2 linked regions of the Homo sapiens genome follow. The protein of the gene in region 2 purifies or fractionates together with the protein of the main gene of each other region. This does not show direct contact. Each region holds a gene or a part of one and is shown on either strand. Other genes may lie near its edges.

The links.
Region 1: the proteins of MBNL1 (region 2) and IARS2 purify together in Homo sapiens (affinity purification with mass spectrometry; 2 studies listed by BioGRID and IntAct, with this or other methods). This does not show direct contact.

The regions. Positions count from the first base shown.
Region 1 is NC_000001.11:220,094,721-220,107,810, reverse strand, and holds part of IARS2 (isoleucine--tRNA ligase, mitochondrial precursor), read right to left. Parts: intron 11,708-13,090; coding exon 11,585-11,707; intron 7,322-11,584; coding exon 7,162-7,321; intron 5,683-7,161; coding exon 5,534-5,682; intron 5,449-5,533; coding exon 5,399-5,448; intron 5,317-5,398; coding exon 5,207-5,316; intron 5,125-5,206; coding exon 5,034-5,124; intron 4,365-5,033; coding exon 4,249-4,364; intron 1,921-4,248; coding exon 1,751-1,920; intron 751-1,750; coding exon 660-750; intron 1-659.
Region 2 is NC_000003.12:152,438,139-152,446,928, reverse strand, and holds part of MBNL1 (muscleblind-like protein 1), read right to left. Parts: intron 1,648-8,790; coding exon 1,390-1,647; intron 226-1,389; coding exon of another isoform or gene 172-225; intron 1-171. UniProt on the Homo sapiens protein: Mediates pre-mRNA alternative splicing regulation. Acts either as activator or repressor of splicing on specific pre-mRNA targets. Inhibits cardiac troponin-T (TNNT2) pre-mRNA exon inclusion but induces insulin receptor (IR) pre-mRNA exon inclusion in muscle.

The sequences.
Region 1 (13,090 bases), on a different chromosome or scaffold from region 2:
CTAGAAAGAGGCAAGTAAGGATTCTCCCATAAAACCTTCAGGAAAACATGGTCCTGCCAGTACGATGAATTTAGACTTCTAGCTTCCAGCACTTGAGAGAATAAATTTCTGTTGTTTCAAACTACCAAGTTTACGGTGATTTTTTACAGTAGCCCTAGAAAAGTAATATATCAGGTCTAAATAGCCTTAGTCTTAGTGTGGGCAAAGAAAGGTTTTCATAGCACTTGGTCTCTGAATCTGTAAAGGAAGACAGAAAGACAATTCAAGGCTGGAGGATTCCCAAGATTCTAATACATAAATCATGCCATATAGGTCAGTTATTTACAAGGGTTAAAAAGTGAGTAGGGAATGTGTAATTTACAGTCAACATCCAGCCCTGATCTTGATTGTATCCTTCCACAAAAGTAATACTGCTGATTATTATCTCCATAGCCCTAAAATAACTTCACTCCCTGTTGACTGCCCTGACTTGCTTAAATAAAGCAGCTTCAAAGCAAAAGATGAAAAAGTCCCAAACTCCATTTTAAAACATATGGCAAAACAAGACATAATTTATTTTTTTGTTTCTGTTAAAGTATAAGGAGGGAAAATAGGTAGCAAAGGTTACTGCTACCTACTTTTCAGAAAACATGTATGATATCAACAGATATGATGCTCACCCACATCAGTTCCCTCTTCAAGGACAGCCTTGTTTTGAAGTTCAGGACCTGCAACATCTGTGAAAACTCCATCTTCGTCCACTAGACAATCCTATAAAGTATCATTTTGAACAATTAAAATATCAAGACATTTTCTCTTATGACAATATCTGGCAAAACAATATATATAAAAACATCTCAGTATAGCCTGGTCTTTTTCTACATTGAAATTCTAGGTACTTGGCCGGGCGCGGCACTCAGGCCTATAATCCCAGCACTTTGGGAGGTCGAGGTGGGCAGATCACTTGAGGTCAGGAATTTGAGACTAGCCTGGCCAACATGGTGAAACCCACTTCCACTAAAAATACAAAAATTAGCCAGGCATGGTGGTGTGCACCTGTAGTCCCAGCTACTCGGGAGGCTGAGGCAGGAGAATCGCTTGAACCCTGGAGGTAGAGGTTGCAGTGAGCCGAGATCATACCACACCACTGCACTCCAGCCTGGGCGACAGAGCAAGACTCCCTCTCAAAAAAAAAAAAAAAGAAAAGAAAAGAAAAGGAAATAGGAATTTGTGAATTTTATACATTTAAATCACCAAAGCCAAAATGTGTTATTGAAGCATATCCATAAACTTTAATAACAAAAGTAACAAAATATATTAAAACATCTTTGAGTGGTCTCTATTGTTTCCAAATCTATGCCTATATACACAGTTGTTCCCTTTCTGACTCACCTTTTAACTAAACGGAAATACTTGCTAAGTAACTGAAGTATGTAAAGTAAATGTAGAAAGGACTGTTTAGCTAAAACAAACAGGCTTTTTCAGGGAATAAAAGTAATTTGTCTATGTGACTTGATACTAGAAAAAAAGTATTTTAAAAGTGCCCCATGATATATATTCTTCAATTCTAAAGTGCTAATTTTCTATTAATTCTGGGAAATCTTTTTCAATTAGTACGAATTAATGAAACTTTAGAGTACTACACAAACCTGAGCATTTCACAATTATGATGACAAAAGTCATCATTTTTAAAAAATGAAGATGTTGGTTAGAATTTATCATTTCCTTTTATTAAGATGAATAATTAAAAATGATAAAAGAGGAACAGTACCATGGGCAGGTTGTGCTGAGACGCTACACCGTAGTCTTCCATACCATGAGCTGGGGCTGTGTGAACCAATCCCGTTCCTTTTGCCATGGTCACATGATTTGCAGGTAAAAGAGGAGAGGCTTTATCAGGAATTAATGGATGACTGCAAGTACCATTTTCCAAATCTACACCTGTGGGGAAAGAAAACCACTATTAAGAATCATTTTATATGGCAAATCTATCTCCTTAAGCTTAGCAATAGAGTATCAGGTTAAATGTGCAGAATCTAGAACAATACTGGCTAGGCTTAAATTCCAGCTTCCCCTTTAACTTGTTCTGTGACCTTCTATAATCTATAAAATGCAGATAATTATGGTTCCCACCTCAGAGGGTTTCTGTGAGAATAAACAGAGTTAATGTAGTTTAAGTGTTTTGATACTTACTGCATCTACCACTTAATATTCTCCCTCACCACCCTCCCAAAATGATCTCTAAGTAATTGATAAGAAATAATTCATTTTTTTCCGGAAAGAAAACCTACCCCATACAAATTACTTCATTTTTAGCTCTTCAACATTCCTACTACTTTAATAAGTAGTAGCTACGTGACACCAGCTTATTTTGACAGGGATAATATATATACTCCTCCACAATATGGTGACTCAAATAGCAACTCAATAATTATCTGATAGTAAGAATTTGAAACAATTATGCTATCTAGACAAAAGATCTTTAAATTCAACCTTAACACTTTCAAAAATCTTGTGATTTTTAGCTTCTATGATAATGTATAACTTGACAATGAAGTCTTTAATATCCTCTGCATTTATAAAAGAGCAGGGGGCTGGGTGCAGTAGCTCATGTCTGTAATTGCAGCACTTTGGGAGGCTGTGGCAGGAAGATTGCTTGAGCCCAGGAGTTTGAAACAAGCCTGGGCAACACAGTGAGAGAGGGTGTGAAGTAAATTATTATCTTGGTTTTTATTTTTATTACCCTATTGCACCAAAGAGGACCAAATGGTCTTCAAAATTCTTAAGCTCCTTTCCTGCCTCTGACATAAAAATCTTTTTATTTTTGTTAAGGTTGTTTAAACTTCTCATTGGCTTGTATCTGAACTGATTAATTTAGAGGGCTTTCCTATTTAGCTAGGCAGTCTTTCTAGGCAGTTTTTGTATCTTTATTCATGTGATAGATTTTTTAGCAAGAAATTAAAAGATATATCATACCTAAGGATCAAAGATAATTTTAGCCCAGGCATGGTGGCTCACGTCTATAATCCTACCACTTTGGGAGGCAGAGGCAGGAGGAACACTTGAGCTCAGGAGTTCAAGATCTGCCTGGGCAACATAGTGAGACCTCATCTCTTTAAAAATAAAATAAAATAAAATAGAATTTTAGTCCAGGCACAGTGGCTCATGCCCATAATCCCAGCACTTTGGAAGACCAAAGCAGGAGGATCACTTGAGGCCAGGAGTTCAAGACCAGCCTGGGCAATGTAGCAAGACCTCATCTCTACCAAAAAAATTAAAAATTAGTCCAGCATGGTGGCACACACTTGTAGTCCCAGCTACTCAAGAGGCTGAGGCAGGAAGATCACTTGAGCCTAGGATCCAGAGGCTGCAGTGAGCCAAGATGGCACCACTGCACTCCAGCCTGGGCAACAGAGCAAGACCACGTCTCAAAACAAAATGAAGAACAACAACAACAAAAAGCTAATTTTAAACTTCCCTAGACTTCCATAATTATATTTCAAAGCAGTCACTACCTCAAAAGTCCCAAATTATAGCTCACAAAGAATTATTTTGGGCTAGGCACAGTGGCTTACGCCTTTAATCCCAGCACTTTGGCAGGCCAAGGCAGGCAGATCACTTGAGCCCAGGAATTCCAGACCAGTCTGGGCTACACAACAAGAATTCATCTCTGTAAAATATTTTTTCAAAATTAGCCGGGTGCAGTGGCATGTGCCTATAGTCCCAGCTACTTGGGTGGCCAGGGCAGGAGGATTGCTTGAGCCCGGGAGTTTGAGGCTGCAATGAGCTGACTGGACCACTGCATTCCAGCAGTGGGCAACAGCATGAGACCCTGTCTCTTTAAAAAATAAAATAAAATAAAATTCCTTTGATAGAAGAACTGCTTTCTGAATAATTTTCAGAACTTATTCAATCCTTTATTAAAATTATGTATCGAAAAATAAGTATATGCATTTCCTTTCTTGCTACTTTTATTAAAACAGATAAAAACAATTTTAAAAATTAATTTTGCATAAAATTTTACCAAGTAACTACTGGATATTGCCAGAAATTAGTTTTACCTGTTGTACATTTATCAATATTCATATTTTTCTATACTCCTATCATGCTTAATGTATATTCTCCTTTAGTGTAATCAATGTAAAATGTATTCTAGAAAGGTAGAGGCCATATCTGTTTCAATTCAAAATATGCAGTTCAGCAAAGTAGTAAATTCAAGTCAGCCCAATACTTTGATGACTATGTTGTCAGATATCTAAAAATCTTCACCTGAAAGTGTTGAAATAGTCTCAAATGTTGTTTCCAAAGTAGAAGCAACAGATGCTACTTTATCTGCCGCCAGTACGTAGAGGTCTCCAGACTTAGAACATTTCACAACAGCATACCTAACATAAAATTTTAGGAGAAATTACTAATAATGAAACAAGAAAAGCCACAGATATCATTTTAATTTTTAAATAATCATTTTAGAAAAAACTGACTTCAGGCCAGCGCGGTGGCTCATGTCTATAATCCCAGCACTTTGGGAGGCCAAGGCAGGTGGATCACCTGAGGTTGGGAGTTTGCAACCAGCCTCACCAACATAGAGAAACCCCATCTCTACTAAAAATACAAAATTAGCCTGGCGTGGTGGCGCATGCCTGTAATCCCATAATCCCAGCTACTCGGGAGGCTGAGGCAGGAAAATTGCTTGAACCCGGGAGGTGGAGGTTGTGGTGAGCCAAGATCATGCCACTGTACTCCAGCCTGGGCAACAAAAGGCAAAACTCGGTCTCCAAAAAAAAAAAGAAAAAAGAAAAAACTGACTTCAAGATCAAACTGTACTATTTTCAAAACACTTTGTAACTTATACTTCTATTTCATTTTCCCGAAAAGCTGGATAAGGTCATAAAAAGGATCACCTAAAGGTTAATAAAATCTATATGAACATAATAACTAAGTTATAATTCATTAAATTTTACAATAATAAACAGGATAAAATAAATTCAAAATAATGTTAATAATGGAATACATTCTATTTGTGTATAAAACAAAAAATGCAATAATATACCCACTTTGATTCAGGCATATAGCAAACAGCTTCATTGGCTGGAATCGTCCAAGGTTGTGTGGTCCAGACCAAAATACTAACAGGAGATGAACCATCTGTGAAAATACAATTGTAAATATGTTAGCAAATGGGATAATTCTATAACTTTGGTACACTCAAGCTATGAATAAATCTTACCTATAAGAGATGCCAATTTTGGAGAAGGCTTTAAGAGAGGAAATTTTACATATATTGAACGACTGACATGCTCAGGATTATATTCAAGTTCTGCTTCAGCCAATGCAGTCCTAAGGGTTAAAAATATTAAACATAAATACTTGGAAGCCTCACAAATTTCTCCCTTTTAATTACCGAAAAATGCATATATACCTAGATGACGGAGACCAAAACACAGGTTTGTAAGATCGATAAACCAAGCCCTATAAAAGACAAAAATATGATGTTAAAAGTAGAATCTTGTAACGCATACTAAAACCTACTCAAAGAGAAAAAATACTTCTTTACCTTATCATACATTTGGTAAAAAGTTCTCAACTGTTTGGCTTCATACTTCCCATCAAATGTATAGTAGCAATTATTCCAATCTGCCATTATTCCCCAACGAATAAATGCTGATTTCTGTTTCTCAATGGCTGCTTTAGCAAATGATCTAGCTAAAAAAAAGACGAAAAAAAGATTTTAAAAAACCAATGAATTCGAATTCTTAAACATGGTTTAGCATGTATCTCTCTAAATGCAAATGCTACAGACAGTTTAGAATGCAAATTTTTTTTGAGACACAGTCTCGCTGTCACCCAGGCTAGAGTGCAGTGGCGCGAGTGGCATGATCTCGGCTCACTGCAAGCCTCTGCCTCCCGGGTTCACGCCATTCTCCTGCCTCAGCCTCCTGAGTAGCTGGGACTACAGGCGCCCGCCACCACGCCCGGCTAATTTTTTTGTAGTTTTAGTAGAGACGGGGTTTCACTGTGTCAGCCAGGATGGTCTGGATCTCCTGACCTCGTGATCTACCCGCCTCAGCCTCCCAAAGTGCTGGGATTACAGGCGTGAGCCACGGCGCCCGAGCACAAAATTTTTTTTTTTTGAGATGGAGTCTTGCTCTGTTGCCCAGGTTGGCATGCAGTGGCGGATCTCAGCTCACTGTAACCTCTGCCACACAGGTTCAAGCAATTCTCGTGCCTCAGCCTCCCAAGTATCTGGGACTACAGGCGTGAGCCACCATACCTGGCTAATTATTTGGTATTTTTAGTAGATACGGGGTTTTGCCATGTTGGCCAGGCTGGTCTCAAACTCCTGACCTTAGGTGATCGATCCACCTCCCTCAGCCTCCCAAAGTGCTAGGATTACAGGCATGAGCCACTGTGCCCAGCCTATAAAAATTTTTTAATAGAAAAATAATTTGAAGGTCAACAGTGTTCAGAAGATACCTACAACAAATTCTAAAATTAACTGGAATTGCAAAAGTTAAAATTTTATTACTGTCTTCTGTATTTTCCAGACTTTATACAATGACCTCATATTTAGGACAAATAAACTGGAAAAATTATTCCTTATTGTTTCTTAATTTAAGAAAAGGTCAGATAACAATTTTCATTTCATTATACACAAAAAATTAATCAGAATATCAAATCTAAGCCAATGATAATAGGTTTCACAAGGAAGTAAAAAAATCTTCACAGTTACATCCAAATGTACAATAGTATAACATATAAGAAAAAGAGAATCCTCCCTTGGCCCAGTCGACTGAAGAAAAAGGATCAAATAAAAGATTAATGTAAAATATATGTATTTTAGAATTGAATTTTGGCTTAACACCTAAAATCAGTCAACAAGCCCCCTTGAGGAAAGCAGAAAAAAGAATTTACCAAAAAATAGTTTTTTAAAATATGAACATTAAGAAACTGAGAATGCAATCAGAAATGCTCACAAAGTCTTTCCTTCAATATCCAAACATAAGTTCTTACAAAAATCAATGAAATAAAATCTGAATTTTCTGTGACAGAAAGGCGTTTCCAATAGATCTTATTATAAGCAAACGAAACCCAAACAAAAGGTTCCTTTGGTAAAGTTCTGACTATTTCAAGGACCTGAGTGTTTACAAATATCATTTTAAAACAGAAATACAGATTATTTACCTTTCTTTCTAATTTCCATAGCTGAAAGATTCTGAGCTTCTCTACCAAGTTCTGATAATACTTTTATTTCAATGGGCAACCCATGACAATCCCAGCCGGGCACAAAATGTATTTTGGAGCCATTCATCATATGGAATCGATTGGCTATGTCTTTCAAAATCTGCAAAGATAAAATGATAATTATCATTCATACATAAAATATTTGGCCATGTATTTCAAAATCTGCAAAGATAAAATGATAATTAGCATTCATACATAAAATATTTGGCCTACAATTTATGTTCTTTTTTTTAAACTTAATACCATTTTTAAAACTGCAATTTGAAAGGAAACGTATAAATTAACTCATAAAAAAACTATTGACACAAATAGTCTAATATTATTTATATTGAGCTAAGAAATATCATCAAACCATTGCAGAACTTACAGTGTACTCAGAGAATGGAATATTGTGGTTAACTCTGTCATTGACAAACCCTTACTAAAACAGTAGACCTCTTCATTAGGTATAGTTCTAGAACCAATTTACCTTTTTAAATTCATTTTAGATACCAGAGGGCAGCAGAGCCTTTTAAAAAATATATTACTATAGTTGAATGGAGGAATCAAAGGCAAAGGATAGATTTGGCTCCAAGCTCAATTTCCTTCTTCCCAAGAGGAAACAGTGCTCTGACCACTAGCCCAGTAGTCCAGAAAACAATTTCCTCCTTTCCATGCCTATCAAAAGTAGAAAAGATATTATTATATTCTCCTCCCATCCCTTCCCCCCTTTAAAAACTCTAATTTCAAACTGTTTACTAATGAACAGGAAGGAGCCTTGTGATCTGAGTGGTTGTCACATTAAAAAAAATTCATCTAGCTATACATACTTAAGATTGGTTCACTTTACTCTGGGTATATTATTTAAATCAATCATCATATAAATAACCTCCTTTCTACTTAACTCTTTGGAAATTGTTTACTTATTTTTTTGTCTCTTCCCTGTAAAACATAAACTCCATGAAATCAGAGAGCCCATCTGTCCTCTTCACCTATGAATTCCAGCCTTTCGAATGGTTTCTGGCACTAGTCTATAAATATTTATCAAATACATGAATACATGGATGCATATATGCTCTAAACAATGGTATCTTATATAGTAGCCACTGGCCACATGTGATTTTTGGTGCTAGTCCGAATTCAGATGTAATGTAAATTATAAAATATATACCTGATTTCAAACATGTTTTACGAAAATGTGATATATCTCAAAAATGTTTTACATCGACTGTATGTTGAAATGATACTTTAGATATGTTGAGTTAAATGTAATATTAAAATTAATTTCACTTGTTTCTTTTCATTATTTTCTGGGGCCACTAGAAAAATTTTAACTTACCTATGTGGCACAAATTTATAGCTTGCATTATATTTATTTCTTTTTTTTTTTTTTTTTTTTGAGACGGAGTCTCGCTCTGTCGCCCAAGCTGGAGAACAGTGGTACAATCTCGGCTCACTGCAACCTCTGCCTCCCAGGTTCAAGTGATTCTCCTGCCTCAGCCTCCTAAGTAGCTGGATTACAGGCACATGCCACCATGCCCAGCTAATTTTTTTGTATTTTCAGTAGAGAGGGGGTTTTACCATGTTGGTCAGGCTGGTCTCGAACTCCTGACCTGATGATCTGCCCGCCTCAGCCTCCCAAAGTGCTGGGATTACAGGCCAGACCCACCACGCCCAGCCGCTTGCATTGTATTTCTACTGAATAGTGTTGCTTTCAGTCATATGAACAGGATGAAATCAATCACTGGAACTAATAATTAACAGTGTACCTAATAAGGATTCTTAAATGTAATAATAAAATATAATATATGAAGCCTCTAGTGAAAAGAATAGTAGCAATATCATAGGAATATTTTACTAACTCCTCAGTATCAAACACCACCCTCCTTCTCCCCAAAAAAAGTTCCTCCATACTTTTAAGAGTCATTTATCTCTGTTCCTTTCATTTTTCTAATATTCATGCATTGCTTTGTTTGAGGGATAAATATCTGAATGCCTACTGTATGTCAAGAATTTTTCTAGGAACCTAGAATATAGTAGTAAACAAAAACGACAAGGTCTTTTTTCTCATGGAGGAACACAGAATATATACCAACATATCACACACTATGGAGAAAAAAGCAAATTATAGGGTTAGAAAATGACATTTAGGGGCTGGGGGTGGTACCATTTTAGAGGGAAGTCAAGAGAGCCTGGTAAGATGACATTTGAACAGAATCTGAAAGAAATGAGGAGGTGATCCATGTGAATATTCTGGTGATGCATTCTAGGAAGAGGAGAAAGCAAGCAAGACTATAATTAGCATGTGTGAGGAAGAGCAAGAATTGGTCCTTCCCTAGTTCCAAAGTGCCCATGCTCTTTGCTAAGGGCTTCAAGAAGGTTTCTCTTCATGTGAGAGATAGTTTTGTAAGATGCCACTGTTTTGGCCGGGTGCAGTGGCTCACGCCTGTAATCCCAGCACTTTGGGAGGCCGAGGCGGGTGGATCATGAGGTCAGGAGATGGAGACCATCCTGGCTAACATGGTGAAACCACGTCTCTACTAAAAAATAATACTAATAATACAAAAAATTAGCTGGGCATGGTGGCAGGCACCTGTGGTCCCAGCTACTCGGGAGACTGAGGCAGGAGAATGGCGTGAACCCGGGAGACGGAGCTTGCAGTGAGCCGAGACTGCGCCACTGCACTCCAGCCTGGGTGACAGCGTGAGACTCTGTCTCAAAGAACAACAACAACAAAAGATGCCACTGTTTTTTATGGAATTATTCCTTTGTCCTCAATCCACATGGAGCTGGCTCCCTCTGCTGCAGCTCCAAGAGTGAACACGTGATCCACTGTAGCCATTAACATATTCTATCCCCAAGTCTGCAATGACTGATTCAGAAATAGATGTGCGACCCAAATCAGGCCAATGAGATTCAATTCCAGGACTTTTATAAGAATTATTGGGGGCCAGACGTGGTGGCTCACGCCTGTAATCCCAGCACTTTGGGAGGCAGAGGCGGGCAGATCACGAGGTCAGGAGATCGAGACCATCCTGGCTAACACAGTGAAACCCCCTCTCTACTAAAAATACAAAAAATTAGCCGGGCGTGGTGGCAGGCGCCTGTAGTCCCATCTACTTGGGAGGCTGAGGCAGGAGAATCGCTTGAACCCGGGAAGCGGAGATTGCAGTGAGCCAAGATTGCACCACTGCACTCCAGTCCGGGCGACAGTACAAGACTCTGTCTCAAAAAAAAAAAAAAAAGAAAAAAGAACTGTTGGGAAAGAGAAGGTGGAATTATGTAAGCCTGAAACTACTGGGAAATGTGCTGGGGGTCTGGGGTGGGGCAGTCACTAAAGTAGCAAAGAGTGAGAGACAGAAACCAATTCTTAATTTTATGTGAATTCCTGATCCAGCTATGCAGGTGGCTAAAACTATCTGGACTCTACAGTAAAAAAGCCAGTAAATTCTCTCTCTTTGCTTAATCCAGTTAATGTTGGCTCTTCCATTCCTTGCAAAAGGGTTTGAAATAATAGAGTTTTATTCTGTATTTATATCACAAAACATGATTTTTTTTTTTTTTTGAGACGGAATCTTGCTCTGTTGCCCAGGCTGGAGTGCAGTGGCGCGATCTCGGCTCACTGCAAGCTCCGCCTCCCGGGTTCACGGCATTCTCCTGCCTCAGCCTCCCGAGTAGCTGGGACTATAGGCTCCCGCCACCATGCGTGGCTAATTTTTTGTATTTTTAGTAGAGACGGGGTTTCACCGTGTTAGCCAGGATGGTCTCGATCTCCTGACCTCGTGATCCGCTTGCCTCGGCCTCCCAAAGGGCTGGGATTACAGGCGTGAGCCACTGCGCCTGGTCTCTTTAATAGCACTATTGACCCATTCAGTGACCAAATTCCTGGTTTTGAAACTACAGATGCCTAAGCCCACTTCCTCCCCAAAATTTCCACTGAAATCTACAAAAAATAAAGAACTGAAAAATGAGTGAACAGATTGTAGTATTAACATATTCTCTCAATGAAATTCTACTAAGCATTTTAAAAATAATGAATTATTGATATCTGTGGGCCAAGCACTGATTACAGGCATGAGCCATACTGCCCGGCCAAGACATACCTTTTTTTTGTCCACTGCTATTCCCAGATTCTAGAACAATGCCTCGCCCGATAATTATGCACTGAATAAGATGATGTTTACTAATATAACGTTAAGCTCAAAGCAAATAGCAGCAATTTTTTTTATGCAGTACTAAAATTGTATATTGCTTTCTATGAAAATGTTTTAGTTTTATGTGCAAATCTAAATTTACATAATTATCATATAATTAGAATACACATTTATAAAGAGTATTTACATAAACACTTTCTTTCAAGTGTCATAACCTAAATTATAGTTACCTTATTTAAAGCATGTCCAACATGAGGGTCACCGTTTGCATAAGGAGGTCCATCATGAAGGCAAAATTCTGTCTTTACTTTTCTTTCTCTTTGCCATGAATAAAGTTCTGAAAATCCACATTTCTGTTTTAAAAAAAAAAAAGATATCTAAACATCATATAAATACATACTCCTGAGTCTAACCATAAATAACAGCCAACACTTGCTTATTTCCATTCCAATTACATTCCAATCTATTCCATTCCAATCTACTCAACTCTGAAATACAAGGTGAGGTTTCTGAAATGCGTGTCAAAGTACGCATCTCTTAAAATCTTTCAGTAATGTCCCCATACACCTCAGATTGAAGTCTAAACTCTTTATATGATATGCAGCACCCTACAAAGGTTTAGTGCCACTAAGTTCTCGGGCATTCTTTCATCACTCCCCATGCTTCACTCCTCACCCCCGACATGTTGAAGGACCTGCAGATTCCCGACACACATATTCTTGCTATTCTTTGGCGGCAATGCTTGCCATTCCCCAAATCTGGGAACAACATGCATGGCAGTCTAAGTCACTTCCCTTCCCTCACTTGCTGTATGATTTTGTCCAGGTTACTGTGCACTTACGGGCCTGCTTTCTTATCTGAAAAAAAAAAGTGTTAATATCCATCTTACAGGGCTGGTGTGAAGATTAAACGAGGAAACATTTGAAACTGTCACTCTTTCTGGCATACAGAAGGTATTGACTAAAAAACCTTTAAAAAATTAGATGAACTCTTATAACTGTCAGAATATTTAGGCTAAGTATATTTACTTAACCAATATTCCAAGAATATCAGGGATTTTTAAAGACTAGAATTACAGAAGCTAAAGAGGAATCTCTGCTCTTAGAAAGTTCAGACTAGGCTGGGCGTAGTGGCTCAGGCCTGTAATCCCAGCACTTTGGGAGGCCGAGGCGGGAAGATCACTTGAGGTCAGGAGTTAGAGACCACCCTGGCCAACATGGTGAAACTCCATCTCTACTAAAAATATAAAAATTAGCCGGGCGTGGTGGTGCGCACCTGTAATCCCAGCAACTGGGGAGGCTAAGGCAGGAGAATTGCCTGAGCCTGGGAGGCGGAAGTTGTAGTGAGCTGAGATCGCGCCATTGCACTCCAGCCTGGGCGACTTCAAACGAGTCATAATTCCAACTAGGGATCTAAAAGATCCAAGAAGTGGGCTTCAACTTCCCCTTCATTCATCATAATTGAGGTTTTTAAGGTTTTTTTTAAGGACGGGGGGGTGGGGGTGACTAGCCAATATGGTCTCGAACTCTTGGCTCAAGCGATTCTCCCGCCTTGGCCTTTCAAAGTTCTGGGATTACAGGCGTGAGCCACTGCGCCCAGCCTGGGTTTTTATTTACATGTGGACATGTGAATTTACTTTTTACAAGGCATTGGAAAAGTGCCCAAAGTCTATCTGTTTTGCCTACGGTAGACATGGGACATACGTGCGATACATGCTGGTAACTGGGCATCGCTAG
Region 2 (8,790 bases):
TAGATTATAGTCTTTCTACTAATTTTGTCAGGAAACCACACTCAGTTTTTTCATTGTACTTTACAACTCTATAACAGAAAAAAGGATATATATTTTAAAGTTGATTTAAAAAAAAAACTTGTATCTACAATAAAGCTACATGCCAAGCTAAAAGGTGAAAGGTCATAGTACCAGGTCAAAGGTTGCCTCGAGGGGTCGCTTCAGTGATTTGACAGCCGACTGAGTCTTAATTAGCAGGCAGCGAGCACATGATGGCAATGGGCCAGTGGGGTTCAAGCGCATTAACATAAACAGCAAGCAGAGGTGCATCATGGGGGCAGCAGTGCATTTTTGGGTAGGTGAGAAAAAACAAATAAAAAAACAAATCATCGGAATGCCATATACAACGAATAACAAGACTAAGCATGCACAATAAAGGCACTACTGAGTTGTTATTGGGAGGATAACTCCTCTTTGTAGTTAATTACAAACAAGATACTCTAACAGAAAAAAAAAAGAGTGAAAGGAAGAGAGGAGGAGAGAGTCTGCCTTCTGTATTTTTGCTCAAGTATCCATAAACACAGAAAAGATCTCTCTCGTGATTATTTCACTGTGTTATGAAATACTACACAGTGACTTTTAAAATGAGTATTTCATTGATTTAAGTCATATATTTATGTAAAAAAATGACAACATTAAAACAGGTAAGCAAAGAACAAAGAATGGGCTCATTAAAATCAGCTACTAGATCACATTAAAATTTACCTTGAGAATATAGTTTAGTAGCTATTCTTAATGATCCAATTTCTAACTCCTTGAGTACTGCTGTCTCTCTCCTGTCTATATAATGGCATAGTCAAGCTTCTCTAGTGTTACTATTATGTTTATGCCACAATATTATTTCAGACAATCTAGATAGTATACTACTCAAAATCCTGTAGCTAATTCTAAGAACAATTTTGTTGAACAATTCTCCTAAATAGTTCCAGATCATGTTATTGTTAAAAGCAAGATATATGTAAAGAAGAGCCTTGATGTGCAAAAGAACACACCAAAGGAAAACAATGGCTGATTAGATGGCACACAGAAATAAGAAGACTGAAAATGGCAATATCGTTAAGTTGAAAAGGAGACAGGTGGTTCTTTACAAAGCAGAGATTTCAGAAACCCTACATCCACAATAAGACAGATTAAGAGTTAGGCCAAGAGTAGGAGCAATCTGAACCATTTGAGGAGTTACCCTCACTTCTGTGAAAGTAACTTCTTTATATATTGTCTGGGATACCTGAACAAACATATCTTCAGCAATTTTTTTAAAAAGGTTACTAAATGAATAGCTTGTAGTCAGATATAGTTGCTCACTTTGCTTTTCTGACTGCTAACAAGGAGAGAGCTGATATCTCTACTCACCATGGCAGCTGCGGTGGCTGCAGCCTGTGCAGCTGCAGCCTGGTTGACCTGGTATTGGGCAGCCTTGATCTTGGCTTGCAAATGTGCAGGGGGATGAAAGTATTTGCACTTTTCCCGAGAGCATCTCCCTTTGATGTAATCCATACACACAGTGACTGTGTTGTCATTGGTGTCAATCATTGTGCTGTCAGCAGGATGAGCAAACCGACAATCATTTTCTCCTCGGTTGCAATTGCCACGTTGGTACTCTCGACATACCTATGAGGTCATTAAGTACATGAGGTTTAGTCAACATGAAGAAGAAGAAGCTTTCTGAAGATTTTAACTTAAAGTGCAAGACTGGTGACAGAAGGCTATAGATGAAAAGGGAAAATGATTTTCAAACAAGGCAACAAGTAACTTCAGCATTTCCTAGTTTAGTTACAAATTATAACTCCATTTCAGTATAAATGTCCATAAGAAAATGCATGTATAATGTTAATTATGGTAAAAATACAATCTGAAATGGTGTTGATAAACTTATTAATTGCAAAGGGAAAAATAATAACTTCACAGTAAAGAAACATGGAAAACATCACTTTAACCAAGTGATCAAAATTAATATCACCAATAATGAGACATAATGATGTTGTGTATCTATTGATATGATACAATGAGAAGGGCACACAATCACAGTAGAGGTAGTACTGCCTGAATTTAATCAAGATGAAACATCAGATGAAGTGAATGGAAAGATATTTTACTAATAACCGACTAGTACTCTCCCAAAGTGTCAAGGTCATGCAAGACAGACTGAGATATTATCACAAGCTGGAGGATCCTGGAGTCACAGAAAGAATATTGGGAGGACAATTGGTAAAATTTGATTAAAGTCTGTAGATTGGTTAAACAGCAGCATATCTATGTTAATTTTTCTGGTCTTAAGAGGGATTCTACAGTTATGTAAGATATTAATATTTAGATCAGTAAAGCGTAGACAGAAACTCTTGGGTCCATTTTTGCAACTTTCGTGTAAATATAAAATTATTTCCAAGTGAAAAATATACAAAATCAAATTTGATAGCTTTTTATGAAAATGTTTCCAGGAGTTATTTTTTTGATCTTTAGAGATTCACTTGGTAGCTATATAAAGCAGTAAAAAAAGATTGGTTTTGTTATGTCTGTTTGTTTTATATTTGCTAATTCTGTTAATTTTGCCACGGAGATCTTAGGGAAAAGGCGAGAACATTATTTCTCATTCATCTGCGCAATTTTGACTCTTACTATTTAAAAGCAGTCTTCATTCAGGATACTTTGACCCTTTTACCACAAGAGGGCCATCTAAAACACAGAATGTCCTTTTAATATTTTCGTGCTCTTACTTCAAGCTTCAAGGAAACAGTTTTTAATTGTTCAAGTATCTTTTCACAAATAGCAAACGCAGATACTAAGCACTTTATTTTGAAGTTAAGCAAGAAAGAAAAACTGTAACCCTACTACGACTTAGGAAGCAAAGGTTTTCTTGGATTTGTATAAATACAATGATTGCATTTAAATCTGGGTGTTTTCCCACATTATATTCATATCCTATTATTGAGGAAAGTGTTTCTTAAAGAAGGAGATACTATAATCTGTATCATGCTACATCTTAAAAAAGAGCATTATAAATGATATCTTGCACTACTTGGAAACCTCAACCTAGCTAAAGTTTTGTGTTCCAAATACATACAATGAGCCAGTGTCATTCACCACTACACTCAGTTATTAAGATCACAAAAATGACTTAAAAAGTTATTCAAGATTCTGGTTTTTTATTAGCATATTTATCTTATTGAACATAAGAAAAAAAGTATTACCAAGATTTATAACTTAAAAGCAAAAAATGATCAAGCTGTTACCGAGAATAATTATCCTCCTCTCTGGCTGAACATTAGCATCAGCTATGGAGCTTGCTAAAACAGTACCCAGTACCTAATCAAAATTTATTGTATGTGAGGCTCATCACTATACTCAGGAAGAGTGATGTGCCTACATTAAATAATGATAAAAAGTTGTGTGTGTGTGTGTGTGTGTGTATGCTAAATATATACTACTGCATAAACGAAAGGGCTACTTTTCTGTTTAAGCAAGTCTATGTCAATGTAGGCATCACCAAACAGGAAACTTGCAGAAGGTCTATAAGTGATCTCTCTCAGCTGCTATTTGCTCCCTCAGTAATTCCTGCTTTCTTGAATATGCTCAAAATGAATTGGCAGCAGGGAACTAATACTCTACTTTTCCAATTTAGGTTACTCTTTGCCGCATTAACAAGAAAGAAGACTTGAATTTATTTAGGTTCTGTGTGTATGTATTTGCATGTGTGTGTGTGTGGGGGGGGGGGTTTCTACAGGTTAAGGATTGGTTTATTATAATTTCATGTTCTTTACTCTCCTGTGGAACATTTAGAAAGAATTCTAAAAATATTTAAGCAGACTTAATAACTAAGAATTAGCTCAGAATGTGTCATAAAACCAACCTTTTCTGAGGTTAAAAAAAACTTAGTCAACTGCTTTTGCATAATATGCATGTTTGACTCTTTCATATTTTTATTTTTTTTTACAGCTTACGGTTTCTCCTAAGAAATAGGACAGAAACATACTGTAATAGCTACTCTCACATTATTCTTGCTTGTGAAAAAATAAGGAAGAGAAAATCTCTTGTGAAAACTTGTACTGGTGAGAGTTACAGGCCAGTGGGACTGGAAATTTACCAAGCATTAGATATGCATCTGAATAGTGGGGTACCTATGGGAACATGAACTTCCCAAACCTTCTAAAACACATTTTCCCTAATAGACATCATCAATAAAATGGGATCTATCCCTTGGTTGCTCAATATGAGTTTGATCTGGTTTCTCTGATAAACTCAAGGACACTTTAGACTATGCTGATACCCAAAATAAATCTCTTAGACATACTATTACATTAGTAAATTATAACTGACAACATTTCACAAATTTAATCTCATAATTAAAAACAGGATAAGAAATTATAACATTTATCATACAGAGAATTTGAAACAGAATATAAAATTAAATCTGAAAATTCTAACAACACTGTGGTTCATTTTTCTCTTCTCATCCAGTCTTCTGTATGTATGCACACATTTTTAAAAATAATTGTAATTATAGTATAGCTATTATTTGGTGATCTTTTATGCTCAACAATGCAGCATAAGCATTTCTCATTTTGCTAAATAATTTCCAGAGTGAATACTTTTGATGGCTGCATCAAATTTCATCAAATAGTGTACATAATACAGGTAACTCTTTTGGAGGATATCTAGATAATTTCCAGTATTTCCATATTACAAGTAATATTCCAAGAATATATCCATGACTATAGGCATTTTTCATTATTTTTGGCAGATAAATGTACAGATTTATTGGTATATGTGTATGTACTGGGTCAACACATAAAAATATTTTCTGACTGGGCGCGGTGGCTCAAGCTGGTAATCCCAGTACTTTGGGAGGCTGAGGTGGGTGGATCACTTGAGGACAGGAGTTCGAGACCAGCCTGGCCAACATGGTGAAACCTCATCTCCACTAAAAATACAAAAATTAGCTGGGCATGGTGGCAGGCGCCTGTAATCCTAGCTACTCAGGAGGCTGAGGCACGAGAATTGCTTGAACCTGGGAAGTGGAGGTCGCAGTGAGCCAAGATCGTGCCACTGCACTCCAGCCTGGGCAACAGAGCAAGACTCTGTCACAAAAGAAAAAAAATATTGTTTGATAAATGGTTTTCAAACCTGCATTAAAACAATAAGATCTATTTAGCTACACATATAATGTGATTCAACATGAGCCTTTTACTTTACAAATACTAAGGCAAGATTTGACAATGAAGATATTCACTGAAAACATTTAAGTTCTATTTCCAGAAAAACATCTATGGAATAATTATAAACTTTAAATAATCAAAAGAAAACATAATCAGGAAAATTTCCCAAGAAAATGTAAATTAATTCTAAATAAACCTTCTTTTGTTAACTAAATAGCAATAATATAGCGGACAGACAATAGGGTTTGGAGTCAAAAATTGTGAGTTCCAGTTCCTATCACTTTACTAGCTAAGGAATCTTCACAATGAAAACACTATTAACATCTATTTAAAAGGTCATGAATACTGAATAAAATAATGCATAGCTTACAACACACCATACAAATCTGGATAATATGAATAATCCTGTCATTTGATCTCTAATTTTTTAATACATGAAAAACTATATTTCAAAATGGTCAAAATAACGTAAGTTTTATAAGTAGTATTAAACTCAGCAATGCTCTCAAGTTAAAGCACTGGGATTCTAAGGAGATTAATGTCAATATTTGAATTTATTCAAAAGTGGAGGGTCATTTGCATATTCTTTAAGGAGATATCCCTTTGAGGTAATATGTTTTGTGTTCACCATATTTGTATAATTAACTCAGTCATCTTGGAGAATAACAATCAAAAGCAGGAACAGAAAGCTAATTATAACAAGAAACAGGGACTTTGTCCATTTTAACATTTTGAGAAGTCAATTTAATAGTTAATGGCCAATATTAAGAAACGTATTCAAAGACATATAGCTACATGTTCACCAATAAGCAGCATGGACTTCACTTTCTATTAAGCTGGAACTAACAAGCTAAATTTTTCTAAGTATTACTTTAAAAAGTAATCCTAGATAATCACTTTGATCAATCACTTTGATCAAAGTGTCCACAGCATCGCTGATCATGAGTTTATAATTTAATGTAAAGAAATTATCTCTATTTTCATTTAAAAAGGATTAAAATATCTACTTTGTAATCCTCATAATTCTGGTGATTAGGTAAATGTAACTGTAGTCAATTTATTGTACAATTAAAATCCCTAGATAAATATCGGATGATGTGATTTCTAGTTTCAGTTGGTGATATGGTTTGGCTGTGTCCCCACCCAAACCTCATCTTGAATTCCCACATGTTGTGGGACAGACCCGGTGGGAGGTAATTGAATCATGGGGGCATATCTTTCCTGAGCTGTTCTTAAGATAGGGAATAAGTCTCATGACATCTGATGGTTTTAAAAGGGTTATGTCCCTGTGCAACCTTTTTTCTTGTCTGCCACCATGCAAAACGTGCTTTCCGCCTTCTGCCATGATTGTGAGGTCTCCCTAGCCATGTGGAACTGTAAGTCCAATAAACCTCTTTCTTTTCGTAAATTGCCCAGTCTTGGGTATGTCTTTATCAGCAGCGTGAAAATGGACTAATACATTTGGTTATTCAATAATTGTACATATTTGATCAATTTTTCTCCTTCCAAAAAAATTCAAGAAAAGGACACCTACTTTAGCTACCTCATAGTATTTCTGTTAGGATCAAATGGGAGCATTCTTTGAAGCCTAAAAGGCAGACTCCATCATTACTATTCAGGCCAGAAAACACAAGCATGCTTCTATAGGTAACAGAACTAAGAATCTACCACTTGATCTCTTATAAAAACATAAAATAAAATCTGAATAGGAATGACCAAAGACAGAACCATTAAATCCACTTCCACGTTGTCATTTATTCATTCCCATGAATGACTGTGCAAACCCAAGAGGACAGGAAAATAGACACAACTTTGAAACAAGCTTGTCAATACACCAAATTAGCCATTACCTTATTTCATTTATGTTATTATTATTATTATTATTACTACTTGAGATAGGGTCTCCCTCTGTCACTCAGTCTGGAGTGCAGTGGTGCAATCTCAGTTCACTGCAGCCTCAACCTCCCTGCTCAAGTGATCCTCCCACCTAAGTCTCTCAAGTAGCTGGGACTGCAGGTGTGAACCACTGTTCTTAATATAGCAATTACTATACTCTATACCATATCAAAACTCTAATCACATAGATTAATAATTGACAGAGCCATAGTGTATTAAATTGTTTAAATGAAGATGTGACTACATTTTTAAGAGCCATTCTAAAGTTTATTACAGATATAAAAAAACAACCTACATAAACCTCTATGTGAAAACTCTTAAGGTTTCTTGGCAATTTTCTGGAGATAGTAAAAAAAGTCACACAAGCAGTAGCCAAACATCCTCTACAAAAATGCAAAATTAAAATAATCCTACCGATAAGACTTTCCTACATTATTAAAAGCATCTTCTTTCCTAATCTTTTCTGAATAGAAAGTCTTTTATCCCATCATGTTAAATCCACTAAACACCTAAAAAATCCCAACATAGGCATGCTTTTCACTGTCATTCTAATCCTCATTTAGCTTTAAACGTTCTATTTTTTGTAGTCAATGGGTATTATATTTTTTTCTGCCTACATGAAAAGGGTTATTAGATTCTTCTGTGTAAGTAATGGAAACATACAACAATTAGTGGCCCAAATTAGAAACTTGTGTAATGATTACCTCACAGAATAAAACTTTCAGCCAAGAATAATTTATTTTATATTTTAATACAAGCAAACGCGAACTGAAACTATCAGAAACCAAGTCGTTTGCCCACCTTTCCTGGAATACTCATGCTTTTCTCATATAGACTGCTGATGTAAAAATGGTGCAGCTAACCAAATGTCAATCTAATGTTTTCATCAGTGTCTGGAATACGTGTCCCCTGGTTTTTATTGGATTACGCCTATGTAATATGAATTACCTTAACAGTCATCATTGTTTACCTAAAGTATTTCACTATGCCATGCACAGTGTTCTTACCAACTTATCTGAGGAGACAGATTTTTAATTAAGTTTCACAAAAAACCATATCATTTACAAATACATTAAGTAAACGATGAAAAAGTTGAAGCCTAAATAAGAGATGCTAGTATCTTTTAGTGCATGTGTTTTTAACTATTTGCATTTAGAATCACATGGCAGAAAAATATTATCAAACCCCACTGCAGATCTACTGAATCAATCTTTGGGGATGAGGTCCTACATTTTTAACAATCACCCCATGTGATTCTAATCTCATTAAAGTATGAAAACCACTCCTTTAGGTCTAGGTGCATAACCAAGATGCTGTATTTTATAGCTGAAGTGCTCAAAATGCAAACATGTTTCCAAGGAGAATGTTAACACATGATAAACATTTTTTATATTTTAGTACCTCTGTGGGATTACCCTGAGTCCTGAATAAGGGGATGTATCTTTCTGTGTTTAATTACCTGAGTAACTGGTTGACTGACTCATTTATCCATTCATTTAACAAGTTACTGGGCATCAGTCATGAGTTTGGGCACTATTCTCATGTGGATCTTTTATTGTCATTGATAAGACAGGAATTAAAGCATTTCAAAGACATTTCTCACATCTTCTACTTGAAATATTTTCAACAGTTTTCTACTGAATATCGTTCAGTAAATGAGAGAATGAATGCATTCATGAATTCTTTTTGCACCATAAAAAATTAC